Linked DNA regions of Homo sapiens. The protein of the gene in region 2 purifies or fractionates together with the protein of the main gene of each other region. This does not show direct contact. Each region holds a gene or a part of one and is shown on either strand. Other genes may lie near its edges.

Evidence for each region. The genes of interacting proteins can lie anywhere in the genome.
Region 1: the proteins of ZNF544 (region 2) and GNPAT purify together in Homo sapiens (affinity purification with mass spectrometry; 2 studies listed by BioGRID and IntAct, with this or other methods). This does not show direct contact.

What each region holds. Positions count from the first base shown.
Region 1 is NC_000001.11:231,244,193-231,251,219, reverse strand, and holds part of GNPAT (dihydroxyacetone phosphate acyltransferase), read right to left. Parts: intron 260-7,027; coding exon 77-259; intron 1-76. UniProt on the Homo sapiens protein: Dihydroxyacetonephosphate acyltransferase catalyzing the first step in the biosynthesis of plasmalogens, a subset of phospholipids that differ from other glycerolipids by having an alkyl chain attached through a vinyl ether linkage at the sn-1 position of the glycerol backbone, and which unique physical properties have an impact on various aspects of cell signaling and membrane biology.
Region 2 is NC_000019.10:58,245,906-58,252,932, forward strand, and holds part of ZNF544 (zinc finger protein 544), read left to right. Parts: intron 1-395; coding exon 396-522; intron 523-805; coding exon 806-889; coding exon of another isoform or gene 890-927; exon of another isoform or gene 928-1,136; intron 1,137-1,376; coding exon of another isoform or gene 1,377-1,522; exon of another isoform or gene 1,523-5,250; intron 5,251-7,027. UniProt on the Homo sapiens protein: May be involved in transcriptional regulation.

The DNA.
Region 1 (7,027 bases), on a different chromosome or scaffold from region 2:
AGCAAAATAAGTTATAGAATTAAGAACTTGTTGACAATGAACAAATCTGGCCATGGTTGAAGAGGGAATCACTTACCTGTTTAATGACATAATGAATCTCCTCAGAATTGAGAACACTACATTTAATATCAATTGGTTTACATGGAGTAATTCCCTTATAGACAAGAGGTGTGTAGCATTTCATTGCAAATTTCAAGTCACTGACATGCCTCCTCTCTTCTAAAATATCTTCAAACTCATCCCACTTTTTGAGCTCCTTCTGTGGATAAGGCAAGAAAGTAATGAGCACATACTGTAAAATAAATCAGGACAGATTAAAGACTACATTGGTAAGGTTTCATCTTTGACAAAATATTACTCTATGACGTGAACAGGAGCAGAGTGTTCTGATGTTAGATTTTCATATAGTAAAAAAAAGAGATGTAAAGAAAATTAGGATCAATAAATTGATACTGAGTTATCATAATATTTTATTATATTTCTGATTGCTATCATTGTCAGTATCTCTTTGGGAAATTTAATGAAGACAGCAAAGATGAGACATTAAGCCCTAGAGTAATCTGATCAACTTCACATGGTTTCACCTGCCACACTGACAAACCTGTTCCATTTGCCTCTACTTAGCTTTAAAAATTACATTAAAACAAACATTTGAAACCCAAATTATATAAAATAAAACAAAACTATATGGGTGCAAATAAAAGGAAAAATCATTCAAGAAACAAGCGCTCCAATAAAAGGTACTGTTGAGCAGTATATGGCTGTGATAACTTTCTTTTCTTCTTTTCGAGACAAGAGCTTATTCTCTTGCTCAGGCTGGAGTACAGTGCCACCATTATATAGCTCACTACAGCCTTGAACTCCTAAAGCAATCCTCCCTCCTGCCTCAGCCTCTCGAGTAGCTAGGATTACAAGTGCATACCACCAAGCCCAGTTAATTCTTAATTTTTTTTGTAGAGACAGTCTTGGCTGGGCATGGTGGCTCATGCCTGTAATTCCAGCACTTTGGGAGGCTAATCTCAATCCTCCACACTTCAAGCAGGATTGCTTGAAGCCGGGCATTCAAGACCAGCCTGGGCAACATAGCAAGACCCCATCTCTACAAAATAAAATAATAATAATAATAATAATAATAATAAAGAGGTACAGTCTTGCTCTGTTGCCCAGGCTGGTCTCAAACTCCTGGCTCAAGCAATCCTCCCACCTTGGTCTCCCAAAGTGCTGGGATTACAGGTGTGAGCTATTGTGCCTGGCCTGTGACAAATTTTTTATTTCTTATTCAGCCCCTGCCATTCAGCTTCTATCCAACCAGCCCCTGAAACTGCTCTTTACACGTCTACCAATGACTTCTGATTTGTTAATTTTTTAAAAAGTACTTTTCTGATTACAAAAGTAGTAGTAATGATAATAATTAAAGCTAACACGTATAACTGCTTACAAAGAGTCAGGACACTTGTCATATGTGCTGACACTAAAGTGTTAGGCGCATTCTAAATGCTTTAGAGGCTTAGGCACCACTCCTCTATGAAAGCTCTCCCAGAGTCCCGAATGGAATCATTCATATTTTCCCTGTCACTTCTTTTCCCACTAACTACACCTATTATGGTATGTATCCCACAACACTGTAATTGTATGCATGTCTGTCTCCCTACTAAAATGAAATTATCTCGAAGGTAGGAAAGTTCATTTTCTCTTTGTATTTCCAACATCTGGTTTTATTTGGAATATAGCATAATTGGTCAATAACTGAACTCAATAACTGAAAGATGAAATGTTGAGGTAATAGAAGAAAATACAGAATGTTAACTGAGACCACAATTTGGCATAAGAATATAAGTGGCAGCAAATAGCATTTATGAGGAGTTTATAAAAGGGTGGCAGGTGAAACATACAAACATGAACATTTTTATGTCCATATATAGAGAGACTATATGAAGGAAAGGTCTTTTCACTGTTGGAGTTCTCATGTAAAGTTGCAACCCTTGTAATAAATACTCTTGCTTATAAGGCTGGAAAACCTTCTCAAATCCCACATTTCTCATTAATAAATATATAGTTGTATCAGTTTGCGCTCTATAGACTGCAGCCAACTACCATTATATCATTTTAGGGCTTAAAAACAAGAACTTCCCATTTAGTGGTCCTGGGAGTGGAAGGAGAAAAGGATCAGAATCAGCTGGGGATATATGTATACACATATACAGTCATGCACTGTTTAACAACAGAGATACACTCTGAGAAATGCATTGGTAGGCAATTTCATCATTGTACAAACATCACAGAGTGTGTTTACACAAACTCAGATGGTATAGCCTACTACATACCTAGGCTATATATAGTATAGTGGTTAGCCTATTGCTCCTAGGCTACAAACCTGTACAGCATGTTACTGTACTGAATGCTATAAGTGATTGTAACACAATGGTACAAATTTACACATATAAACACAAAAAAGATACAGCAAAAATACGATATTATAATCTTATGGGACCACCATCATATACTGACTAAAACGTTGTTATGCATCATGTGACTCTGTGTGTGTTTGTGTGTGTGTTTATACGTATATATAGCTGACCCTTAAACAACACACATTTGAACTGCACAGGTCTACTTACATGAGGATTTTTACATTTAAGTTTTTTTTTTTTTCAATAGAGACGGGGGTCTTGCTATGTTGCCCAAGCTGGTCTGAAACTCCTGAGCTCAAATTATCTTCCCACCTTGGCCTCCCAAAGCGCTGGATTACAGGCGTGAACCACCACGCCTGGCCTATATGAGGATTTTCTGCTTCTGCCACTCCTGAGAGGGCAAATCCAACCCCTCCTCTTCCTCCTCCTCCTCAGCCTACTCGATGTGAAGTGATGAGGATGAAGTGGATTAATGACGATCCACTCCCACTTGATGAATAGTAAATATATTTTCTCTTATGATTTTCTTAGTAACATTTTCTTTTCTCTAGCATACTTTATTAAGAATACAGTACATAATACACATAACATATAAAATAAGCCTTAATGAATTGCTTATGTTATCAGCTAGGTCAACAGTAGGTTACTACTAATGAAACTTTTGGAGAGTCAAGAGTTATTGTGAATTTTCGACTGTGCAGAGGGTTGGTGCCCCCAACTCCCACGTTGTTCAAAGGTCAACTGTACATATATAAACACAGACATGTATGGGAGCGAGGGAGTCTTCAGGATAAGAACCCCTAAGGGAAACTAGCAGGCATGTATACTTTGAAAAAGCTTGCCAAATACGATCATCTACAATCCTTCCGTGGTTCTGTTACTTGCAAGGTGGACTTACATCAAGTCCACCTGTCTTAGCATATGACCCCAGGCTCTTCATGACCCCCCACCTCCTGCCTCATGACCATTCCTCTTAATCCAATAGTCCAGCTATGCCAAGACCTGCAGTTCCCTAAACACACTACGTGTTCCCAGATCTCTGATTCAAGTTGCTCCCTCTACAGAATAGCATTCATTCTCAAATATCTGAATGCCTATGTGCTTGACACTGTGGTATGTGCTGAGGATATAGTGGTGATCAAGAGAGAGACAGTCTCTTTTATGAAGAACAAGGTGGATGGTGGTACCAGTTATTGAGAGGGGCATTTACAAATGCTCCTTCCGCACTGTTCACCTGGGAAATATTTAGCCATCAACCAGAGCTTGTGTTTACCTCTTCTGTGTCCCATATTCTGGTTCTCCCCTTTACCTAGATTGAACAGGTCATCCTTTCCTTTCAGTCTTCACTGAACCCTCAATAATCGGATTTTCAAGATGGTCTCTAAAACACTTCATTAAACTCGTATTTGGTGCCTCCCTTACAAGACTGTGAACTTCTTATCTGGTAGATAAGGTGTCCTATACATTTCTGTACTCCCAGTTTCTAGTATGAACTCAAGCCACTGTAGAATGAAAAAATAAATTACAGAATGAAGTCACTTTTTGAACCCTATCGATGATGGCTCCTCAGTATTCACAGTATAAGGCTCAAATCTCCCCATTCTGGCCCTTACCCGATGTCGAATCCAGTGGTTTTTTTTTTTGAGATGGAGTCTCTCTCTGTTGCCCAGGCTGGAGTGCAGTGGCACGATCTCAGCTCACTGCAAGCTCCGCCTCCCGGGTTCACGCCATTCTGCCTCAGCCTGCCGAGCGGCTGGGACTACAGGCGCCCGCCACCATGCCCGGCTAATTTTTTGTATTTATAGTAGAGACGAGGTTTCACCGTGTTAGCCAGGATGGTCTGGATCTCCTGACCTCGTGATCCACCTGCCTAGGCCTCCCAAAGTGCTGGGATTACAGGCGTGAGCCAACGCGCCCGGCCGAATCCAGTGGTTTTAAACTCAGGCTGCACATTAAAATAACCTGGGGGCACTTCAAAATAAATACTGATATCCAGGTTCCACCTGTAGAGATTTCTGATTAATTTGGTCTGTGAGTGCTGCTCAGCTGTCCAAATTCTTTTTAAAAATACTCCAAGTGATTCCTATGTGCAGCTAGGGTTGAGTGTTCCTGCTCATTAATTGGCCTTCCCTATACCATGCTTGAGAAGTTTTTACTATCATTAAGTAAGTAAATTTACATGGCTACTCACTCAGGAACATAACACAAAGAAGAACCCAAGTAAGCCTTAGGGGAACTATCTCTCCCCCATCTTACTTAGTAGAGCAGGCCTCTCCCTACTGCTAGTGAAATAGGCCTTTCTTATACCTCCCTTTTAACTGCTCTGGAGGATCCACTCATTCAACAGATAGTGACTGAGAGCTCACAGTGTACCAGGCACTGTTTTACAGGCTGTGAATACAGCATGAACAAGGCAGGCAGGGACTGCACTGAGAGCCTACGTGTCCTTATGGAAAGACAGACAACAAATAAACAAGGTAAATTCATTTAGTGATACCACCAGTAGTATGTTGGTCAATGTTTAACCATTTAACGCTTGATATGGGAGAGCTCTGAGTTATAGCATTTGTCAATTTTTGTGGGATATACGCTCCCACCAGGGCAGATTTAAAGCTTCCAATCTGACCCCAGCAAACGCAAAGCTGGGGAGAAATGAGCAGTAGCACACAGTTATACAGGATACAGGATCTCCACCTTCCAGCACGATAGACAAATAATCTCAAGAGCACAGGTAATAGTACAATAATGAGAAAATGTTAAGTTATCAGTATTTATTACCTTTTTTAAAAACAGGATTTAATCGTAAATTTACATAATTTAATATTTAATTTTTTTTTTTGAGACAGAGTTTCACTCTTGTTGCCCAGGCTGGAGTGCAATGGCGCAATCTCGGCTCACTGCAACTTCCACCTCCCGGGTTCAAGCGATTCTCCTGCCTCAGCCTCCCGAGTAGCTGGGATTACAGGCATGTGCCACCATGCCCAGCTAATTTTGTGTTTTTAGTAGAGACGGGGTTTCTCGATGTTGGTCAGGCTGGTCGCGAGCTCCCGACCTCAGGTGATCCGCCTGCTTTGGCCTCCCAAAGTGCTGGGATTACAGGCGTAAGCCACAGCGCCCGGCTATTTAATTTTTAATAATGGCTGTGTTTTAAGAATGGGCTCACAAACTTCATGAAAATTTAACAATCAGCTCTTGCAAGCCAATAGAAGACTGCTGTAGCACACCACTGGAAAGAGAATATAAGGAAAATAAAGCTGCGGTCAGGGCATGGTGGCTCACTCTGTAATCCCAGTGATCTGGGAGGCCAAGGCAAGAGGATCAATCGTTTGAGACCAGAAGTTTGAGACCAGGTTGGCAACATAGTGAGGCCCTGTCTCTACACAAAATAAAAAAAAAAACCAGTCAGGCGTGGTGGTATGCGCCTACAGTCCTAGCTACTGGGAGGCTGAGGAGGGAGGATCACTTGAGCTCAAGAGTTGGAGGTCACAGTGAGCTATGACTATGCCACTGCACTCCACTCTAGGTGACAGAGCAAGATCCTGGCTCTAAAAATAATTAATTAAAAAGCCAAAAATTAACAACAACAAAAAAAGAAAATTAGGCAACTAATGAGGAAAATGAGGAATAGTGATTGGATAGCTGTTTTAGATTCAATGGTTGTGGAAGGCCTCTCTGAGGAAGTGATATTTGAGTTGGGACCTCAATAATACAAAGAGCCAGCAATAAAACTTCTGAGAAAACATAGCATGCCACACAGAAGGGACTATGAGCATTCGAGGGAAGAGCATTTTACTGTCTGAGAAACAGAAGGCCAGGGTGGCTAAAGCCCAGTGAACAAGAAGATTAGTAAAGTCAGAGCAATAGCAGTTAAGAGATCATGTACAGTCTTGTGGGACACTGTAGTAAGGCATCTGCATCTTTCACTTGGACTTTAACAGGAAGTCATCATCTGGATTATGGCACACCAGTGGTTACCCATCCTCAGTCTTCTTTTCATTCTAGGGTCTCACTGAATGATTTCAGGCTCACCGAATGCTATAGATACAACCTACATGCTGAAAAATCTATACATTTAGGCCAGACCCCCTCTCTTGCTCTGGCACCATATTTCTAACCCTACTTGGATCTCTTCCAAACACTATGGAATGTATCTGGCTCATAACATGATAATCCACAAGTTAAAAATCATTATATTTCTCTCTTACATCACAAACTGAACACACCCCAAACTGAATTCTATTACCCTGACCAAACCTGCTCCTCTCCCCATATTTCTTATCAATGAAAGGCATCATCATCTGCCCAGTTGCCAAATCATAGAAACCCAACAGTGAACTTCAGACTATGCTATTTTCCTTAGCCACCACATTCAAATGGTTCCAAAGGATGATGATTTACTGTCCTAAATATCACATAAATTCATCAATTTCCCTTCTTCCTGGGCTCACTGTTACTGCTTCATTACTTCTCTGGATTACTGCAATAGCATTCTAACTGATCTCCACTTTTATGCATCAGATTCCCTACCCAACCTGATTCTCTTCCTACAGTCTCTACTTAGGCAAAACAGGTTACCTATACAGATAATCACACCAGAAACCTATAGTCTTCTCAGA
Region 2 (7,027 bases):
ACATGGAGCTGTCCCAGTCCGTTTGGGTTGCTATAATAAGATACCTTAGAGTGAGCAATTTACAAACAACAGAATTGACTGCTCATAGTTCTGGAGGCTGGTAAGTCCAAGATCAATGTGTCAACAGAGTTGGTCTGGTTGGGGCCTGCTGTCTCATAGATGGCACCTCTTACATGTCCTCATATGGTAGAAGGTGAACACAGGCTCCCTCAAGCCTCTTTTATGAGGACATTAATTGCCTTGTAAAGACCCCACCTCTTAACACTATCTCACTGGGTATTAGGTTCCAATGTATGAATTTTACGGGGGGACACCAACATTTAGGCCTTAACAGGTACCTCCGTGAGGGCATGAGGACCTGGGGTCTCTGAGCAGTAACAAGTGCCCTGTTTCAGGCATCTGTGTGCTTCGAGGATGTGGCTATGGCATTCACACAGGAGGAGTGGGAACAGCTGGACCTGGCCCAGAGGACACTGTACCGAGAGGTGACACTGGAGACCTGGGAGCATATTGTCTCCCTGGGTAAGTGGCTGTGCTCATGGAAGGAGGTTCTACCCCTAGGACTCAAAGCTGTACCAAGTTCTGAAGGGTGTTCTGGGATGTGCTGGAAGATACTGGAAGCAGGTCCCTTTCAGGTGCAGTTCCCAGGGGTTGCCCTTCATTCTATCTCTGGGACAGGTTTGTGACTTGTAGTCCTAACAGTGGGGAGTTTCCTCGGGACAGCACTAGGGGCTGAAGCTTGGACCCAGGACATGGTTCTTGGTGTCCAAGCAGAGGGGCAAGTCCTTTTTCCGTCTTTGACCAGGGCTTTTCCTTTCCAAATCTGATGTGATCTCTCAGCTGGAGCAAGAAGAGGACCTGTGCAGGGCAGAGCAGGAGGCCCCCCGAGGTAAGAGCAGACCTTGTGGTGAGCAGCTCAACGTTTAACAAGCTTGGACAGAGAGCTCTCCGCAGGGCCCCAGGGGCCAAGGAGGGAGCCTTGTTTGGAGGAAGCCTCCTTGGGTGCTCTTTGCAGCAGTTCACCCATTCAAAGGAGTTCACCAATTCGAAGTATGCAGTTCATGGCTTCCAGTGTCTTCCCTGAGTGTGGAACCCTCACCACAATCAGTTCTAGAACATGTTCATCATCCCAACCATTTAGGCCTCTTTACTTGATTTGTTTTTTTTTAATTAATGTATGTATTTATTTATTTATTTTGAGATAGGGTTTTACTCTGTTGCCCAGGCTGAAGTGCAGTGGCGCTGTCTTGGCTCACTATAGCCCCCATCTCCCTGGCTCAAGCAATTCTCATGCGTCAGCCTCCCTAGTAGCTTGGACTACAGGTGCACACTGCCACACCTGGCTAATTCTTTTGTTTTTGTTTTTGTTTTTTAAGACGGAGTTTCGCTCTTGTTGCCCAGACTGGAGTGCAATGGCACAATCTCGGCTCACCACAACCTCCACCTCCCAGGTTCAAGTGATTCTCCTGCCTCAGCCTCCCAAGTAGCTGGGATTACAGGCATGTCCACCATGCCCGGCTAATTTTTTGTATTTTTAGTGGAGACAGAGTTTCACCGTGTTAGCCAGGATGGTCTTGATCTCCTGACCTCATGATCCGCCCGCCTCAGCCTCCCAAAGTGCTGAGATTACAGGTGTGAGCCATCACGCCTGGCCCTAATTTTGTATTTTTATTAGAGGTGGGGTTTCTCCATGTTGGTCAGGCTGGTCTCGAACTCCCGACCTCAGGTGATCCACCTGCCTCAGCCTCCCAAAGTGCCGGGATTACAGGTATGAGCCACTGCACCTGGCCATTAATTTTTGTATTTTTAATGGAGATAGGGTTTCATCATGTTGCCCAGGCTAATAGACTTTATTTTTTAGAGCAGTTTTAGGTTTATAGGTAAGTTGACGAGAAAGTGCAGAGTTCCCACCCATGTCTGCTGTCCTACAGACACATGCAGTGTCTCCTGCTGTTAACAACTTGGATTTGTATTGTACATCTGTTACAATCGGCAAACCTATCTTGAGGCATCCTTTTTTTTTTTCCCAGACAGAGTCTCACTCTGTCACCAGGCTGGCGTACAGTGGTGTGATCTCAGCTCACTGCAACCTCCGCCCCCCAGGTTCAAGTGATTTTCCTGCCTCAACCTCCCAACTAACTGGGACTACAGGCACGCACCACCACGCCCAGCTAATTTTTGTATTTTTAGTAGAGTCAGAGTTTCACCATGTTGGCCAGGATGGTCTCGATCTCCTGACCTCATGATGCGCCCCCCTCAGCCTCCCAAAGTGCTGGGATTACAGGCGTGAGCCACTACCCCTTGCCCTTGAGGCATCATTATCACCCAAAGTCCATAGTTTATGATAGGGTTCATGCTTTTTTTTTTCTTTTTTTTTTTTTTTTTTTGAGACAGTGATGCAGTCATAGCTTAAGCCTTCTGGGCTTAAGTGATCCTCCCACCTCTCTGCACCCCAGCCTCAGGTGCCACAGCATGCACCACCATGCCTGGCTAATGTAAAAATTTTTTGTAGAGATGGAGTGTCACTGTGTTGCCCAGGCTTGTCTTGAACTCCTGGGCTCAAGTGATCCTCCCACCTCAGCCTCCCAAAGTGCTGGGATTACATGTATGAGCCACTGCACCTGGCCAGGCTTCACTCCTGATGTTGTATATTCTGTGCATTTGGACAAATGTACAATGTCATGTATCCACCATTATAGTATCAGACAGAGTAGTTCCACTACCCTAAATATTCTCTGTGCTCTACCCATTCATCCCTCCCTCATCCCCAGCCCCTGGTGTTACTGGTGGAGGATGTGCAGGTTCTTGGCATTTTGAACAAAGAATTGGACAAAATGCATAAAACAATGAAAGAATGAAGCAAAAAAAGCATAGATTTATCAAAATGAAAGTACACTCCACACAATGGGAGTGGTCTGGAGCAAGCAGCTCAAGAGCACTGGTTACAGAATTTTCTGGGGTTTAAATCCCGAGAGGTTTCCCATTGGTTACTTGGTTTATATCCTCTGTAAATGAAGTAGTGGCCCATAACTAGTCTGATTGGTTGGGGAAGGTGACCAACAGAGGCTGAAGTGAAGTTACAAAGTTACACCTCTATGCAGATGAAAACTAGGCCAGTGACCAGTCTCATTGGTTGCAGGAAGAGGTACTTTCCATTTTTCATCTGCGACACAGAAGGCGGGGGTTGCCTCTGATCCTTTTGTTATTTGGGGCATGGAAAGTTTGGGTTTTCCTTTTGATTCAGTTCCAGGAAGTCAGCATTAATCACCCTTAGGTTTCTTGCCTCCATACCCTGTTCTCATACCTCATTTCCCCCCGAAAGACATGATCCTCATAAATCTTTATGGGAGGTAAAGGGATTGATAGTCTTTCTTCTGTAACTGCTTTATGCTGACCTGAGGCACAGTCCCTACGTACTGGGGAATCACAGGACTCTCTCCCCGCCCTGTCTAGTGGAGACAGGATAGCTTCTTGATGGCCAGGGGTGGTGTCTCCACCTGGAACTGGCTGGAAACATTGTCACATGATCATCTGAAGCTTGATGGTCTCTAGGTGACAGGAAATGAATTTGGTTAAGAGTTTAACAAACATGGTCCAAAAACCAAGGCAAGTATAGTCATTACTAATGGGCTGGCCAGAGGAAGGAGCCATGAACCCCAACTTAGCATTTTTGACCAGGAGCCCCATGACTCAGATAGCTGTTGTTGTATTTTAGAGGCCCAGTTGGGTAGTTTTTGGGTGGCATTTGTTACTAATCCTCATTGTTCGGCATAAAAACAGCATTCTTCCTCTAGAAAAAGACCTAAGCCCCCCTTTACAGCAGTTAGGAGATCTCATCCCCTTCTGTTTTGCCAAGCAACTGCTGCTGAGGCATCTATTTGATTTCGTATGGTGATGATACTTTGGCCAATGTCTCTATTTTTTCTTTTTTACTTTGGGCAATGTCATTCAAGCTTTCCATAAAATCCTTGGAAAAGCATTGGTAATAGGATAGGGATGTTACAACCCGGCTGACTCCCATTCCCAGTCCCGCGGTTATTTGTAGTCCTACCAAAAGGGATGTGAGTTGGATGGTTCATTTGTGTCTGGCAATTGCAGTTAAAGGTATAATGAGGGATTGGTTCTTGGGAGCTATATTAATTTCACAGGCTAAATAAACAAGTGTAAAGGTTCTAGTCCAATTGGCTGGTAAACATAAGTAAGAACTAGTTCCACACAGGTAAAAGGCTCCTAGTTTTTCAAGACAAGAATTTTCTATGGTAAACATGTGGGTTAGCTTGTTGTTTTCACTTTCCCAAGTGGTTAAGGTCCCTATGAAGGTGGCCCCAGTTAAAGGCTGGAAAGGACCTTGGGAAATATTCTGAGTTGCCCCAGCAGTTCTGTTTTCCCATTGGAGGTAATTAGGCTTAGTGTCTACCAACAAGCATCCAGAGGTGTTTCGTACTGGGGAACCAAAAGATAACTAGATGTCTGAGGATTAGTGCAGTCTTCCCAAGGGAAAATATGATCATAGCTAGTGGGCTTACCTTGGCAGTACTTAGACTGTGTATCCTTTGAAGTGTCCTTATCTAGGGATGGTTTCCATGAAAACCATACAGGTTTTCTAAATGACACAGTCTGGGTAACTGCCTAGCTTATGTAATCATGTGAGGGGTTAATAATCTCTAGGGTGTAGTTACACTGATGACTTTTCAAGGTTCCCAGGGCCTGACCAAAATTTTGGCTTCTCTTAATACAAAGTGGCACCTGGAATTTTAGCTCTGTGTACATTGATATTGGGCCCCAAATGGGTTTCTGTGGGATGCAACCCCAGAAAGGGTACTCTGATAGTACTGGAGAAGGTTTACTGCTTGTCCTGTCATCGTAGTTCATGTTTTTTTCCCCAAGGCCAAAGATTGGGCTGGGATTGGGGTGGTAGTGTATTTGAATGATGCTGGAGATAACCAAAGCCAACAGTCTTTGCCAGAGCTGGGCTGGTGGTATTTAACTGTCTTTGAGTTAAATGTAAAGTTTTTAATAAATACCCAGAATCCATTAACTGCTGGAGGGGTAAAGTGAAGCTCTGTTGTAAAATAAAGCTGATTCCCATTATGCGTGGTCCTGTATACACAGGCTGTGGGTGACCATTATGGAACCAAAAAATACTTATTTGTTATTTTGTGCTATAGAATAGGAACTTCAGGGGTGGATACCTATGCTGTCAGGAATGCTTGTTATAAGAATTAATTAAAACACTTTGCTTAATTATTACAAAGGAAGTTATTCCATTTGTTTAGAAGAAAGCAATTAAATTGTAGAAGTATAACAATGGCTACTATTATCCAGTTTAAAGTAACTAAGCAACAAAGACACCAAGGAAAGTTGGTAGGCTTTTACTTATCTTTTGGCTGTCTTTTAAACAGGTACTTCAGGTCTTTCACAAGTCACAGGTGTAGTGGCTGATGGGAGCTTCAGGTTCCCGGTCTGGGACTTCACATAACACAGGCTTGACACCAGAAAGATGTATCCAACTATCTAATCCTAGTACTTTGACCCCAGAAGGCATGGCCAGTACTGAAAATGGTCCCTTCCACTTTGATTGTAATTATTGAGCAGGTGATCCCTCCTTCTATGTTTTAACAGGTACCTTGTCTGTTGGCCTGATTTTGGGTTGGTGGTTAGTTCCTGGTGTGGGGAGCTTTTGAGTTCCAAACTCTTGTAAAGCCTGCTGAAATAATCCCAGGTTAACTAGGTATTTTACTAAACTGGATGTTTCTGGATCAGAGATTAGATCATTAGTTAAAAATGGCCTTTTGTATAACATTTGTGTGGGCTCATAATAATTTTTTCTCTAGGGGAATTATGGATTCTTAAGAGGGCTATGGGCAGTAAGCAGATCCAAGTTTCTGATGTTTCCTGACATAGGAACTCCTATTTTAGAGTTAGCTAAGCTCTTTCCACTTTTTTGGAGGATTGAGGTCTCCATGCTGAATGTAAATAATAGTTGATTCTGAGAACCTTAGCAACCCCTTGAGTTATTTGGGAGACAAAAGATGGGCTGTTATCACTTTGGAGGCTTTGAGGTAACCCAAACCAGGGGATTATTTCCTTTAAGAGAACCTTTATAACTTCATTAAACTTCTCTGTTCTGGTAGGGTACACTTCAACCCAGCCAATAAAGGTGTCTGTTAGTACTGGCAGAAACTTTTATCCTTTGCAAGCTGGCATATCAGTGAGGTCTAATTGCCAGTCTTCCCCTTTAACTTTAGCCAATATATTCACACACAGAATCCCTTCTACAATTAATTTTTCATAAACCTTCTACAGCTTGTCTTTTAACCCTCCAAACTTTGGCAAGAAATCCATATTCTCATGCCTTTTACCAAAAGTACATTCTACTTTTTTTACATGAATCCTTTTCACGACTTACACAGACCTTCTATGACATGCCTGGACTTTCTGACTTGTCCTAAACATCCCTCTTTAAACAACCATTCATTTAACTTTAGGGCAAGAATTTACCATACAGGATCCTGTCTCATACAAAATTATTATTGCTACATCCTTCCCTACCAAGAATACATCTTCATATACATAACTTTCTTCACCTCTCTCTCCCGTACTTACTGGTTTCTTACTACCTTGTTTCATAAATAACCCTTTTTTTTAAGTCAACAACCTGAATCAACCTTTAGACAACCTCTGAACTACACAAAATCATTTCTTTCTTACCAATAGCACATCTTTTTTGGCACCTTTTGTATACAGAATCATTTGTTAACTAGAATTCTTATCCTTAGTAACCTTAAATTTTAGTGAAACCCTAAAAAGCAAGAAATCCTGAACTATTAGATATGAGCATTTTATAGATGAGAAGAATTCCACAACTTTTAGAAACATATTTCCCCGTATCATAATCCTTCCTTTTTATTTACTTATTATCATTATGTTTTTGAGACGGAGTCTTGCTCTGTCACCAGGCTAGAGTGCAGTGGCACAATCTCGGCTCACTGCAACCTCTGACTCCCTGGTTCAAGCAATTCTCCAG